3 separate regions of the Homo sapiens genome follow, and all the other regions are reported to be linked to region 2. Evidence: microRNA targets listed by miRTarBase, many of them from high-throughput screens and not tested one by one. Region 2 holds a microRNA gene; each other region holds the end of a gene's coding sequence.
What was found. The annotated mature microRNA hsa-miR-1179 reads AAGCAUUCUUUCAUUGGUUGG and lies in region 2 at 2,161-2,181, opposite strand. An mRNA with a match to its seed (bases 2 to 7 or 8) in the 3' UTR can be bound and repressed. Matches are read on the target gene's strand: a 7mer-m8 pairs with bases 2 to 8, a 7mer-A1 pairs with bases 2 to 7 and ends in A, and an 8mer does both.

Region 1: miRTarBase lists LIN54 as a target of hsa-miR-1179. Seed matches in the 3' UTR shown: 7mer-A1 at 2,610-2,616.
Region 3: miRTarBase lists NFIX as a target of hsa-miR-1179. Seed matches in the 3' UTR shown: 7mer-m8 at 1,255-1,261.

What each region holds. Positions count from the first base shown.
Region 1 is chr4:82,925,526-82,928,656 of GRCh38, reverse strand. It overlaps LIN54 (lin-54 DREAM MuvB core complex component), which reads left to right. Exons shown (of 13, transcript NM_194282.4): 13 at 354-3,131. The coding sequence ends at 555. Among named protein-coding and RNA genes, the nearest start is that of THAP9-AS1, 26 kb to the right of the region's middle.
Region 2 is chr15:88,607,171-88,610,301 of GRCh38, reverse strand. It overlaps MIR1179 (microRNA 1179), which reads right to left and starts at 2,195; the gene lies at 2,105-2,195. It also overlaps a transcript of AEN not described here.
Region 3 is chr19:13,094,182-13,097,312 of GRCh38, forward strand. NFIX (nuclear factor I X) reads left to right here. Exons shown (of 11, transcript NM_001365902.3): 11 at 454-3,131. The coding sequence ends at 468. Among named protein-coding and RNA genes, the nearest start is that of LYL1, 7.1 kb to the right of the region's middle. RefSeq lists a silencer at 1,337-1,426 and an enhancer at 1,738-2,601.

The DNA.
Region 1 (3,131 bases), not on the chromosome of region 2:
AGAATTGAACTTACAGAGCGTACATTCATGATTTAGGAGGATTTTAGTTAAAGAAATTCTAGTCTTCGTGTAGACTATTATCTTTTAGTTAACCACATAACCTTGCCTAGGTAATAAGTAACGTGTTTTATGTTAAATTTCCTGAACAATATTCTTACAATATGTGAATAAAACCAAATTTAACTTTTTAAAGCCCTTTTTAGGATGTGCTTGTGCTCACTGTGTAAATTGTGATGCTCATCCTGCTGGTGAATTGTGAAAGTGTCAGTAGAGATTTCCAGATGAAAGAATGTTATCCACTTTTGTTGTTATTTAACACCACCATCATCTTTCTCTTTCAAAAATCATTTCAGATTGCCATTTACATTTGTAACTAAGGAAGTAGCTGAAGCCACATGTAATTGCCTCCTTGCCCAGGCAGAGCAGGCAGACAAGAAGGGAAAATCAAAGGCAGCAGCGGAACGGATGATACTTGAGGAATTCGGACGATGTTTGATGAGTGTCATCAACTCTGCAGGAAAGGCAAAAAGTGACCCTTGTGCCATGAATTGCTAACTCTTGCACAAAAGACTGATAAATGGAACTGTACAGAAAATTTAAGGTGCAGGGACACTTGATTTTCTGGAAGAAAAACAATTACTGTATTTTAATTCAGTCCTTGTTTTAAAAGACCTGAAATTATAATACTGAAGGAGAAGAAATTTTAAATGAGGAAATTAGTACATTTTAAATCTTAGTTAAATCTGCTTATGCCCCTTCTAAATTGAATTTTTCTTTATTATATAGATTTTTTAATTTGCTTGGGTTTCTTAAGAATTAGATGTTCTCTTTCTGATACCTTTGACAAAAAATGTTTATAAATTCATATAATTTATAATGTATGGTGTTGTATGACTTTGTTAATAGAAAAGCCAAAGCAGCAGTGGTTAGCACCCATTCTTTGGGACTTGATCTAGAATATCTGCAGACAGAATGTTACATAAACAAATTCTTATGAAACACATTCAAATGACATTTTGTATTTAGAAAAGGACTATCTTTTAAAGAAAAAGCAGCCTTTTAGGGCCGATTCTGGAATAATATCCTGTTGTCACTTTGGGAATGTCAGAAGGGGAAACAATCCCCAGGCACACTAAAAATTTTTTAAAGTTATTTAAAAAAACATATAAAATATTAAAGGACAGTAAATCTCAGAGGATGGGCAATGTGTTTCTATAATAAGGAAAGGCTAACAGATGCTCTGGGCTGTCTCCATTTTCTTTCAAAGAGGTGGTATGTATTTGAAGTAATAAATTGTCAAAGTGATTACTGGGTACTATTAAAATGATAGGTGGATATAAATGGAAGTAAACATTATGTAGTGATAATATAGAACCTCACATAGTAATCAAGTATAAAATTTGGCATGGGTGGAGAAACAAAGAATAGGGAAGCTGCAAAAGATGAATTTAGAGAAGTTTTCATCTATACAATCAATTATTTTTACAGACTTTTTTTTTTTTTTTTTTGAGACGGAGTCTCGCTGTGTAGCCCAGGCTGGAGTGCAATGGTGAGATCTCAGCTCACTGCAACGCCTCTGCCTCCCAGGTTCAAGCGATTCTCCTGCCTCAGCCTCCCGTGTAGCTGGGACTACAGGTGCATGCCACCATGCCCGGCTCATTTTTTGTATTTTTAGTAGAGACGGGGTTTCACCGTGTTAGCCAGGATGGTCTCGATCTCCTGACCTCGTGATTCGCCCGCCTCGGCCTCCCAAAGTGCTGGGATTACAGGCATAAGCCGCCGTGCCAGGCCCTTTTTATAGACTTTTGAACTAAGAGGTTTCAAACCAAATCGCAACTCTTACTTGATTTACAGAAATGGGCCTCCTAACAAAATTTTCAAAATTGTGGTGGGATTTCTTTTTATAAGGGAAGTTTAATATGGCATTATTTTCAGCCAGTGATTTGGAAGGTCTGTTTTCCTATAATTACTAAAATAACCTAAATCATTTTCAGTATTCAAAAACTCTATGAATTTAAGAGCCTGTTGTGACAGGACTCTTGATTTTATGACAAGAAAAAACCATGTTGGAATTCAGGCATTTTGTTAGGTACCTTAATCATCAGTAATTAGTATATGATTATTTCATTTCCTACAAGGACTCTATAGTTGTATGTATTAAGTGTGTATATATGTTCATATGAACATGCAAGATATAGGCAATAGAAATTAAGTAATCCAAAAGAGGATTCCGTTATTCACTAAAGTATCTTCCTTTTAAATTTGGATTTATAAAATCATAGTGCAGTAACTTTAAATGTAGATAGTTCAAACATTCTTAGCACCTCAATCTAGTATGTTTAATTAAAATTTGTATAAATGTAAATTAGTGTAAGAGGGTAAAATAATAATCAAGTTATTTTTCAAAAGATTGCAATAAGTTTTTGGTCTAAACTTAAACTTTGTTCATTTTGTACATACTCTGTGTTAATTCTAATTGCACCTTTGTGATGTGTATTTATATACAGTGTGCAGAAAATGTTCGTGAAATTTTGATTACAATTGTAGATTATGTATGATGGCATTGCTTACGAATGTTTTGCTTGTAAAAAAATTTCAAGGTGCAATCAAATGCTACTAGTTTTTCTGATTTTCAAAAATCTATCTATCTAAAATATTAAGCCTTTTCCTTCCTGTGTAGTACTTACTAAATAACTTTTTGTATTCAGGCATTTGCATCAAATTGCTGAACAAGATGAATAGCCACATTAATTCAATGATTTTAAAAGACTATTTGGGGAGGGTTGGGTATATAATTTTTTAGCTCTATTTACATCCCAAAGTAGAAAGATTAAATTTATATTTACTAGAGCTATTCAAAGAATACACTTTTCTATATTGTAAAAACAGGACAGCAAAGTAAATCATACAGAAAATAAACATTTATACTATTCTGTAAAAAAGGTTTTGCATTTTTTCTTTAGTATAATAACACCACTTTATTAACCATTTAATATGCAAAAAACCTTTTAAATTATCTGAAGTAAATTTGACATTACTTCTGAAAACACACAACTAAAAAATTCTATCATTTTGCTCAGTTATTACTAACATAAATTGCTTTGAAATGAGAATATGTCTTCTCTTTTTTT
Region 2 (3,131 bases):
CGTGCCTCTTTGCCACTGTTGAGAGGAGGGTTAGTCCTTCAACCTTGAATTGTTTTAGAGACAAGGACCTGAGGGTACCATTAGAGAACAATGCTAACTAAGGTAACCCCTTGGTTAATAGGAGAGCTTAGCACCCTAGGTATTTCTAGGAAAAACAGGCCTTTCTTAGGGACCTGGCAAATAAACTTTGAGAAGTAATAGACAAGCTAAAATGCACCACAAAGAGAGTTTGGAGAGAACCACAGCATCTCTCTGGATGTCAGCTTGCAGGACTGACTGATCTAGCTTACATGAGCAACCCTGGCCCTAAAGCCACCACCCAAACCACTGCCCTGCTAGAAGCTCACTATGAGAGCAGGGACTCTCACTCATTATTCTTCCAAGTGCCTCGCGCACAGCCTGGCCCGTGATAAATGAAACTGGTTGGCAAAGAAGCAGAGTTCAGAGACAGAGTAGGATTGTGAGGTGTGAACAGGGTAAATCCATTTTCATTGGCTTTTTCCTTACAGATCCAATGAAGATGAATTTGAACTGATTGTGGCCCTAGTTTTCAAAATTCTTTAATTCTGGGCTCTATCTGAATTGGGAGAAGATGCAAGCAATAAAAGAGGCTGCTGTAGTCTCAAAGAAATATATTTTGAAAAAATGACCTGCCCTTGAGCCCACCAACTTCCACTCCCCACTTCTAATTTCTTTCCTCTGAATTTAGAGCTGTTCCCTTAGCAACGCTTGTTTCCATGGTTTCCTCCATGACAATGATCCCAAACCCCTCCTCTCTTTTACCTCATGACAGTAATGGATGATGGGGATCCTCAATGTGGCCACTCCATGTTACCATGGTAACAATTAACTGAGCCTTAATTTATCTTTTGTGAAGAGGGCTAGGGAATATGAAGCTTTTGATTTGGAGGGGGAGGGTCCAGGTCTAGAGCTACCATTCTCATAAAGAAGAAGATAAGCTATTTGTCTTAATACTAGCCAGTAGGATTTAGTTCAAACATTTGTTCAGCCCTACTTTAAGCACAACTGAGTTTGAGGGAATCAAAGGGGTACAAGACATAGCTCCTAATATTGAAGGGCTAATAGTCTAGCACTAGGGCTCATGGTACCGCTGAACTCTGGCACAGATGGGGCCAATAAAGAATATGGCTCTTGATAGCACCGTGATGATCAGGCATCTATCCATTCCCAGTATCCCCTCCTGCCAAGAACCAAAAAAAGACTGACTGAAGTGGTCTGTACTCACATTAAGACTTCTTCCGGGCTGTTATCAGAGAGTTTCTGTCCTGAAAGGGAAAGAACTTTGACTTCCCCTCTTTTAGGGAAGTGGGGACCAATGCCAGCATCCCTGAGTAGGACTATTTGGTGCAGGAAAAAAGAGAAAAATAAACAGACCTGCCCATTGCCAGTGCAACAAAGGACTGGGATAATCTCCAGTTCCAGGATAACCATCACCTACCTGCAACAAGTCTTCCTGGGAAGCGATGAGTCAGCTCTTACATTGAATTAAAGAGTCATTGTCTCCATCCATTCAGCTTTTCTATTTGTCACTGAAAATTCAGGCCAAAAGCGCAGCTCTGAAGAATGAAAGTGGAAAAACAGACAAATAAAAATCAAAGTGAAGAGGACACCAAACACCAAACACAAAACACCAAAGCTGAGAGCTGAGTAGAGTGAATCCACAAGCTGAGATATCCATTCTGCATCACAAGCAATGCAGTTCTTCCGACTTCTAGCTTTCCATCTTCATCTCCAAAAGTTTTCACCAAATCTCTAATAATGAGGACCAATTATCTATTTTTAGGGGAAATCACAAAATTCTCTGGACCCTCAGTGTGCTGGTAACAATAACCTGCACTGACTTGGAAAGATGATCACAGTATCTCCTAAAATGAAGGGGGAAAAAAGCCATAGGACAATGTATAAGGCAGGTATGTTGAAGTAAGCTGCGAATAGGTAGGTAAAAAATGTCATCCTTGCAAGTCAGTGCAATCTGGATTAGCCAAAGTCAATTCCAGATCCTGAGTCCAGGACTCTGAGTTCTGTCCTTTGCTACTGGATGGAACTAAGGCAGATTCAATCCTTCTGTGTACCCTGCTCACTCAGCTAGTCAGAAAAGGATAAATGGCATCCTCTTATTGGTTGACAAGGCAATACACACCAACCAATGAAAGAATGCTTCTTCCTTTCCAGCCAATAAGAGCTCAGTTATCTTCTTGAAAGTAGACCCTTTGTCCATAAAGAAAATAAGCAGAAAGTGAATAATAATTAAAAAAAACCACACAACTGTTGCTATGGGACATTACTGATGTGATCAATGATAGCTGCCCCGGACAATTCATAAAGGAAAGCACTTCTTTGGGAAGAAAAGTACAAAAAGCAGACCAGCTGTCTGGTCTGGTCTAAAGGGAAGTTTCTATAGTAACATGGGAGAGAAAAGCATTTTAAAAGCATTTTAATGTAAATACCCGCAAAACTATCAAGTCAGTTCACCGAGCGAATTTTTGACCTTTTAAACTTATGCTGAAATTATAATGAATAAAAATTCTTATATTAATAATAAATGAAGGAAATGGAGAGAAAAGAAGAGAACAAGAGGAGAAAAGAAAAGACCTGTGTGTTTATGGTTCAGGGCATCACAGATAAAGATATCACAGTTCCTGCCTGAAACAGAAATGTTCTCCAACCCCGTGTTGTCAAGTAATATCTCAGTTTAAAACAAACTTCTTTTTGTTGTTGTTATTGTTGCTGTTTTTCGGGAAAGAGAACGTTCATGGCACTTAGACTTATTTGAGATGAAACAGTGCACAGAGCACAGGCTGTTCTGGTAACTTGCTAGCGATTTCCTCTCAAATCATTCTGAGAATGTTACAGCTGCCTTTGGAAAATTATGAGTAAAATAATTTCCTACCCAGATGTTTCTAATGGACATAGGCAGGGCAAGGCTGACAGGTGAAAGTGGAGTCAATGTTTGTCAATCAAGGGAAACAGAAAAACTCAGAGGATTAGAAGCTTTAGGTGCTGTATTTGCTAATTATGAAGGCGATGCTGGGGAGGAAGAAGAGAAGAGAATCTTGAGGAATCAAATGAGAGTGATGCTAGTGTCCATCTGCTAAGGGAGACACGTTTCC
Region 3 (3,131 bases), not on the chromosome of region 2:
AATCCAAAGAGACAGAAAGAAAACTCAGCAAGAAGCTGGGCCACCCCCAACCCATTCCTAAAACCCCTCTGGGTACAAAAGCCCCAGCCTGGCATCTTCCCCACCCTCCAGGACCCACACAAAAACCTAAACAATTGGAAACATGGCCAGATCTCAGGCCTGTGCCAGCGCCAGCCATGGGGGTCCCACCCGCTGGGCACAGTGCCCACGGGAAGGCCAGCTGGACTCTAGCACTAGGGGCAGAGTCTCTGAGGGGGCGGGGTTCTCGCAGGAGGGAGGGAGAGAATGGGGATGCCCTTTCTTCTCCATGGGAACAAGGTGGGTGGTGGCTGCCCGGCACCCTGGCTCTTTGGGAGCTGGACCCTTGAGGGGCCAGGTCACTGGGCCAGGTAGGAGTGAGATGGGACCTGCCCCAGCTGTTCTCAGTATCGCCTCTTTTTCATCCTGTTTCAGTCCTGGTTCCTCTGATAAGATCGACAAAAGAAACAACAAAATGAGAAGAAGAGGTTCCTCGAAAGGGGGGAGAAGAAATTTTGAGAATGGAAAAATCCCCCAGCCCAGCCCAGCCCCACCGAAAAGCAAAAATTACACGTCGTCAGCCACTCAGCCCTTCTCTCCTCCAGCCCGGGGACCCCCGCGGGCCCCAGAAGCAGCCCAGTTCTCAGAGAGCCCTTGGAAGGGGTCTCGGTGGAGCTGTGCACCAGCAGCCAAGCAGAAAGAAACACGCGACATGGACTCTGTCAAGTAGAGGACAGAAAGCAAGAAAGGATGCAGAACTGCCTTCCTCCCCCTGACCCCGCCCCGGCCTTCTGGGGAAGGAACAAAGTCCCCAAACAAAGCAACCAGCACAATTCTGAAGGGGCCTGGCCTCCACCCTCACCCCTTCCTAGGGGAACCCCACCCTCCACACAGCCGGAGCTGCCCTAGGGAGCCTGGAGGGCCAGCTTGTAAAGATGATGGGGTTTAGATCCCTCAGGCTCTCCCCTCCAGACTCCGCCCTTCCCTCCCTCCCTCCCTCCCTCCCTCTCTGCCAAGGCTCCAGCTTCTTCCCCCAGCTGCTCCCGACCAGGAGGGGGAGAGCAGCCTCCACTTACCCCACCCCACCCTTGGGCTAAAAGCCCCCAGGCGGGCAGGGGGTGACCCCTGGAGCTAGTTGCGTGTCCCAGAATGGAGGGTGTTCTGACACCCCACCCTGAGCCGCAAGAGCAGTCCTGGGGCCCTGGACCCCTCTGTACAGTCCGTAGGAAAAAGTCGGAATGCTCTCGACGGCCTCGTCCCAGCCTGGGACAGGCCCCCTTTCCCCTCTCTCTGCAGGCCAGGAGGGCCTCCTTCCTGCCACGAGGGAGGGGAGTCGGGCCCCAGGTCGCCCCCGCCCCCAGCCCTGCATGCAGGTGCCCTCGCTCCGCCCCATCAGTTCCTGCCCCTGCCCCTCATGCAGACTGCCCTGCTGGGGCCGGGCCGGAGGGTGGAGCAGAAAGGGGACCCCGGAGCCGAGCGAGGAGGACCAGGCAGCCGCCGCTGCCGCGCTAAGCCACCACCTGCGCTTAGGTAGGCGTCCTGCTCGCCGACTTTCAGTTCCTTGGGAGGGTGTTGGGTGTCGTCCTTTTCAAAAGTGTTTTGGAGCTTTCTGTGCCCCCCGACTTTCCCCCGCCTCCCCGCCCCCCACGTGGCCACTTTTCTCTGGATTTTAGCTGTAATGTCTTTACTCTTTATTTAGGGGTGGGGCATTCATTGTTTGGGTCTTTTGCTGTTGGAATGGGAACTCCTCCTCCATTTGAGCAACTTGGGAACAATTTGGTAACACACCACAGGAAGTAGCTCTCCCCCCCAGCCCCCTCCTCCCTCAAGGGAGGGTTGGGGGGCCTGTCCAGAGGGTCTTCAGAAGCCCCCCTGGGAGGGAGGGGAGGATGAGCACGCCCAGCTCCCCTCCAGGGTGTGACTTGGCCCCTCTGGCTTGTCTTTCTGTGCCTTACTCCTCCTCCTGCGTCTCCCGTTCCTGGCCCCTTCTTGAGTCCTTGTGCCTCTCTCTTTCTCTCTCTTTCTTAATTGTATGAAAACACAAAGCACAGGTCAGGATCCTCTGAGAGAAAATCAACATTGCACCACGTAGGGGTGGGCTATGGGCTGTATTTATTGTGAATCTAGTTTGTGAGGCTGTGGCCCCGAGCTGGCGGAGGGAGGGAAGAGGAGGGAGTGACGGGAGGGGAGGAGGTCAGCGACCTGGGGCCGTAGCGGCAGGCGAACGGTGCCTGCTACCCAGCTGGAAGCCACAAGGTGGCTGGCTCCAGGGGCGGCTTTTGTTGGAAGTTGAGTGAAGCCCTCCCCCTGTCCTCAGCGTGCAGCCCTAGAGGACCCCAGGGCTGAGGGGCAGTGGATCCTGCGGGAGTCTCCCGGGGCGTGGGGAGTAAGGCCCCGGGGGTGGGGGGCCGGGTGGGCCGGGCGTGACGCGCGGTCAAAGTGCAATGATTTTTCAGTTCGGTTGGCTAAACAGGGTCAGAGCTGAGAGCGAAGCAGAAGGGGCTCCCTGTCCGGCCCACGTGCCCTTTCCCTCGACGACAGTCGAGGGCTCGGGCTCTGTGGGACTGTGGGAGCTAGGGTCTGCGGGGCGCCTGCCCGGGCGAGGTCGGAAGCTGCAGGCCAGCTGGGCCCGGGCCGGAGCGTGCCCGGCGGGGCTGCCCGGGCGGGCAGGGGGTGGGGGCTGCTCCTTTCCCAAGTGGTGTTGTGAGGGGCAATGAGGGCAACAGGAGATGTGGGGACGTGTTAGGAGAGAAAAAAAAAAAAACAAAAATATATATGGGGGAAATTAACTTTTTTTTTTCATTGAACCAAGTGCAATGCATCAGAGAGTTTTCCTATCTTTGTATGTTAAGAGATTAAGAAAAAAAAATTCTATTTTTGTTGTAATGTCCTCGCGGCTCTGGGGACGCTAAAAGAACCGGGCCTGCCCCGCCCTGCGCGGGGATAACGAAAGCTGAGTGTTTTTCCCTTTTTTTTGTTCGTTTTTAGTTTTTTTTTTTTTAAGTCGTTTTCCTGCGTTGACGAGGATGATCTGGGGTTTTTATTTGTTTCGTCGTTCGTTCTGTTTCGGTGGGAGGGCTGAAGGAAACGTTCACATTTTAGAGTTTAAAAAA